Regions from separate parts of the Homo sapiens genome. Here region 1 is linked to region 2. A link means that fine-mapping ties the variant in region 2 to the expression of a gene that starts in the linked region. Tissue or cell type: sun-exposed skin. Region 2 holds a variant in brackets; the other region holds the start of a gene. All regions are shown on one strand. Distances are between the middles of the regions.

Region 1 (2,500 bases), 64 kb after region 2:
ACAGCCACTAATCATGTCATTTAGGAGACGTGACCAACACCGACCAATACAAGCTACAGTGGGTCCTCCAGTGTAAGGCTTGAGAGAAGAGTGACCTATCCGCCAGGAGACCTACTGAAGGGGACAAGACCCTGCCCTCTTGGAACAGGATCACGGGTGGGAAGACACGCATCCCTGGGGGCACAGGCATCCCTGGGAGAAAATGTCTGGGGAACCAAGCGTTCCCTGCACTGTACAAAAATCCTGGGGAGCAGGTGCATGGGGGCACACACATGCCTAGAGGCAAATCTGTCATATGTCTTCCCGGGGCACACACATCCCTAGGAATACAAGAGTCCCAGGGAAGAAATGAATGGGGGACCTGCATCCCGGGGTACACTAATCCCTGGAGGCACAGGAAGAGTTCCCAGGGGATATGTCAGGCCCAGGTGGTTTAAGGAAACCGTACTGCATACCCGCTATGGGAGGGCTCCTTCCCGGGGACCCACCTGAGGCCGGCCTTTCTCCATCTGCCTTTCCACAGCAGCTCCCCTCACCTCTCACCAATCCGAAATCTCACTATAGGGCATGGTCCCGGGGCAGAACCTCCCCACCCAAGCAGAAAATTCCAGAATGTATCTCCCAGGAGGCCCTGGGCAAGCGGTACACTTAAAGACACCAGACTATCCCTTGCAACTCTAACAATCTTTAAAACGTACGAGGTTGGTAGTGTTTCGTGAGCACACGCAGTAAAAAATTTAAAAAAAAAAATTTTTAATGGGATCTCTGCAATTCTTGCTCGCAGGCCTCCCAGGCCTCAGCCCTGCACGCCCTGAGCCCCGCACCCTGCAGGGCGCCCGCGCAACACCCAGTAGTGGGTCCCCCAGGCCGTGTCTGCCCAGAGTGCCCTGCACACGTGAGCGTCACTGCTCATGGAATGAACGGTCACCCCGCGCGGCTGGCTATGCCGCTGGCCCAGGGAAGAGCTGAACACCCGGCAGGCAGAGCAGGCGCGGGCCCCGCACGGTGGCCCGAGGTCCCCGCCGCGCAGGCGCCCGCACGCGCGTTTGGCAGACTCCGGAGGCCACCGCGGCCCCACGCGCCAGGTCCCGGCCGTTGTTTACGGGTCCTGGGTCAAAGGCCTGGCCTGTCCCGAAGGTCGCGCAGCCGCGTGGGCCGGGCGGGGTGCGTGGGGGAGGGCGGGGGCGGCCTCGTGGGGCTCTAGGGCCGAGGGCGGGCACCGCCGGGCAGGTCCCCGGGGGTCGGCGGGCGCGGGCGCGCACTCACCCTCGCGCGCCCTCCGCTTCCTGGCCAGGGTGCCGCCCAGCTTGCCCAGGAACGACTCGTCCTTCTTCATCCTGCGGGGCCGCGGGGTGGGCGAGCGCGGCGCGGAGGACATGGGCCGCGCGTGGGGCCGGCGGCGGGCGCAGCGCGTGTGGAGCCGCCCGGTCGCCCCGGGGAGAGGCCGAGGGCGCGGCCCCGCCGCCGGCCCCCGCCCCGGTCCCGCCCCCGCCCCTGGCCTGGAGCGCGGCCCCGGCGTCCCGGATGCCCGAGGCCTGCTGGTCCCGGCCAGAGCCGTCCCCGTCCCGCGCCGCCGCTCAAGCTCAGAGAAGGGGCGTGGGGCCACCCCGGGAGCGGCGCAGCCTTTTCCCTACGCGTTGGAGCCCTGGGCTCTGCTCGGCTCCGCTAGTGGTGCCGGATCCAGGCGACAGCGCGACAGACACCATTGCCACGTGGGTGCAGCCTCAGGACGTCCTGAAAGCCGGAGAGAATCAGGTCACACGAACGTGGCCGGTCTGTTGTTAAGCTTCTGCCAAGAGCCAGGCCCGGGGCAGGGGGAGCCCTTCAGAACTGGGAATTGTCCCTACCCACGGGAAGCTTAGAGGATGGAGGGCAATGCGGGGCACAGGTCATTGGCCTGACCTCCAAGGGGAGTTCCAGGAGTTGTTTCTGGAAGAGGCGACGGGGAGGCCCCAGGAAATGGCTTGCAGGCCGGTACCATGAGGTGAGCAGAAGAGCAGGCCCTGGGGACAGTGTGGGGTGCCAGGGAGGGGAGAGGAGGGGAGACAGGCCTCGCATGTGTTGGAAGCAGAGGAAACGGCTTCATCCCGAGGACTGCCAGACAGGGCTATTTTTATTTTATTTTATTTTATTTTATTTTATTTTATTTTATTTTATTTTATTTTATTTTATTTTATTTTGTTTTGTTTTATTTTATTTTATTTTTTTAGACGTAGTCTTGCTTTGTTGCCCAGGCTGGAGTGCAGTGGCACAATCTCGGCTCACTGCAACCTCCACCTCCTGAGTTAAAGCGATTCTCCTGTCTCAGCCTCCTGAGTAGCTGGGATTACAGGTGCACGCCACCACGACCGGGTAATTTTTGTATTTTTAGTAGAGATGCGGTTTTGCCATGTTGGCCAGGCTGGTCTCGAACCCCTGACCTCAGGTGATCCGCCTGCCTCGGCCTCCCAAAGTGCTGGGATTATAGGTGTGAGCCACCATGCCCAGCCTAGATACCCAG
Region 2 (2,755 bases):
CATGCTGGCATGCATTCTCTCAGTGTCTGGAGGGTGTGGAGGGTGTGAGCTTCCAAGGGACTGGGGCTTGATTTCATGAGATGGGTGATTAAGGGAAAAAGACCGCCTTGTGCTTGTTTTCCTAAGTGTCTGCATTGTTCTAAGATGAATGTCTCTGTCCACACGAAACCCAGCAGCCAGCCACGAGGGAGTCGATGCCAACTCGTTCCCACCGCAGCAGAGTTCACCTGCAGCACCACGCTCTGTGGCCTGCACGGGGGGCCAGGTAGGAAGAGAGAGACAGGAGGGCATTTGATAGGAGGAGGGCCCCTTGGCACACTGTCTCTGGAGACGGGCACTCCTCGCTCAGCCCGGGATGGCAGAGTGGGAAGTGCAGGCTGCAGTCACCAGATCTGAGTTTTCAAGAAAAGCTGGAAATGTGGGGTTTGGTGTGGAATCTCCCCATTTATAAATACGAGCCATTAATTCAAATTTTGTGGGCCAGCCAGAGGGCACACAACCTCGGATTACAGAACATACTTGTCCAACCCATATTGCTGACTGTCCATTGGAAAGGGGGAGAGCACCACTAACGTTTCCTGAGCACCTACTATGTGCAGGGCATCTTCCATGCCAGCCATTCACCTTGTCTCCTAACAAGTCTGAGGGAGGCCGGGCACGGTGGCTCAAACCTGTAATTCCAGCACTCTGGGAGGCCAAGGTGGGCAAATCACCTGAGGTCAGGACTTCGAGACCAGCCTGACCAACATGATGAAACCCTGTCTCTACTAAAAATACAAACATTAGTCAGGCGTGGCAGTGGGCGCCTGCAATCCCAGCTACTTGGGCGGCTGAGGCATGAGAATTGCTTGAACCTGGGAGGTGGAGGTTGCAGTGAGCTAAGGTTGTGCCACTTCACTCCAGCCTGGGCAACACAGCGAGACTCCGTCTGTCTCAAAAATAATAACAATAATAATAAATAAACAAGTCTGTGAGGGAGTGGCTGGTCCTGTGCTGTTAGATGTGAAGCCCCAGAGTCAGGACTAAAGCCAGTTCTACCTGATCTTGCACCTCACTGTGCCCTACTAAATCCTACCTATCTTCAACCTCATCTTACTGGCCGCCTCCTCCAAGAAGCCCTCCTGGGTGTTCCCCTCTCCCCAGCTGAAGCCACACAGCCATGTAACTATCTCCTTCCCGAACTTGCCTTCCTGCCAGTGCCAACCCAGTTCCTGCACATAGTAGGCCTTTTAATATATTCAAGGAGCAGCACAACAGAGAGCTTAGAATCCCAGAGCCAGGCTGCTGGTTTTGGATCCCAGCTTGACCACTGACAAGGTGTGTGACCTTGGGCAAGCTGCTTGACGGCTCTGTGTGTCTCAGTTTCCATCTGTAAAGTGGGGCCTAACACACCTCAGAGAGATCACAAAGATTCAGGGA[C/G]ACACACCCTCGGCACAGTCGCCAGCATGCAGCCACCCCTCGGGAAGCGTCAGCTTTGAGTAACTATAATGGTGGAATATGTGCGGCTTCCAAAGCCTCCACCCAAAGATTGGGCAAGGTTTAAAAAAAAGAAAAAAGAAAAAAAAAAAAAAAAACACCATCGTTCCTGATTTGGAATTACAAGAACATAAAAGGAAAGAAAGAGAATCAAAAACTAAAAGCATGTCATCAGAAGCCTGCCATTTATACCTCAGGCCAAATGCGAAAGTTCCATCTTTGATTTTTTTTTTTTTAATCTTCTTCTTTGTATGGTTGTATTTATTTATTTATGCCCAGGCTCTTTCCCAAAAAAGGATTTTCAGGCAGCTTTTTTTCCCCCTTTTGATATTATTAGGAAAACAACTTTGAAAGCAAGCTGGTTTAAAGAACAAGGTTACCTTAACGGAGAGAAGAAATCTGAAAACACAAAGGCTGATCAGCTTCTTGCTCCACTAGCAGAACCAGGGCAGGACACGGGGGATGGCAAGGCGCCCCTGCAATCACGGGCCCAAGAGCCTCACTGGGGGCTTGCCTGGAGGGTCTGGCCCAGACACAAAGGCCCAATGGAGGCTGAGCCACAGGTCCTGGGGGGCCAGAGCAATGGCAACTCCATTTTCTGACACTTTTCTAAGTGTGTCATTTCAACACAGCAGAGATGCTTTGCCACCTACGGGGACTTTCTACACCATCCGTGCAATTCCTGGTTTTCATAGAGAACAAAAGATCAGGGCGAGAAATTTCAGAGGGCCCCGTCTGAACCAGGATCAAAGAGAAAACCCCAACAAAAACAGCCATTCTCCATCCCTGCACATCTAAAAGAACTGGAAAATGGCAGGAAAGCTGCCCCAGTTTTAAACACTTAACCAGCCCTTTTCAAATCCTACCCACTTCTAGTTACAACTGATCCTGCTCAAAGAAACAGAGTGGTCTTCAGAGCTTGCGGGAGGATACAGGAGGAGAAAGAAAGGTGCGGCTCTGTGCCAACTCACGCCACCAGCTCCTCTTCCCAGCTGGGGAGGGGGCATCGGGATCCTTCGCTTGGGCTTAAGCAGGAACCCAAAGACATCTCTGTTAAATGAGGTTTTCCAGGCCTCTGCCAGGAAATGACAGCTTTCTATGAATTTTCCAACTTCCATCCGTACTCAGAGGGGTGTGGTTTCTTCGTAGAAGCTGTAATTTATCAGAATAACTAACTTCATCAGGCACGAAGGTCTTCTTAACAGAGCAGTTTTTCTAAAAATAAGTCCAGTTGTACTTCAGTGAAGATCTTGCAGCTCAGTGGAGTTAAAATAAGACC

What was found. PIP is the estimated chance that this variant, and not a neighbour inherited with it, causes the effect.
Region 1: it holds the start of PARVB, and the variant in region 2 is fine-mapped to the expression of PARVB in sun-exposed skin (GTEx, PIP above 0.99). The same link has a PIP of 0.9 or more in unexposed skin.

Annotation. Positions count from the first base shown.
Region 1 is chr22:44,023,218-44,025,717 of GRCh38, reverse strand. It overlaps PARVB (parvin beta), which reads right to left and starts at 1,416. Exons shown (of 13, transcript NM_013327.5): 1 at 1,267-1,416. The coding sequence starts at 1,378. RefSeq lists enhancers at 1-48, 59-138 and silencers at 909-1,118, 1,169-1,218, 1,289-1,408, 1,439-1,548.
Region 2 is chr22:44,086,666-44,089,420 of GRCh38, reverse strand. All of the region lies in intron 1 of PARVB (parvin beta), which reads right to left. Among named protein-coding and RNA genes, the nearest start is that of TRU-TCA2-1, 63 kb to the left of the region's middle. The variant C/G (reference allele first, on the strand shown) is at 1,420.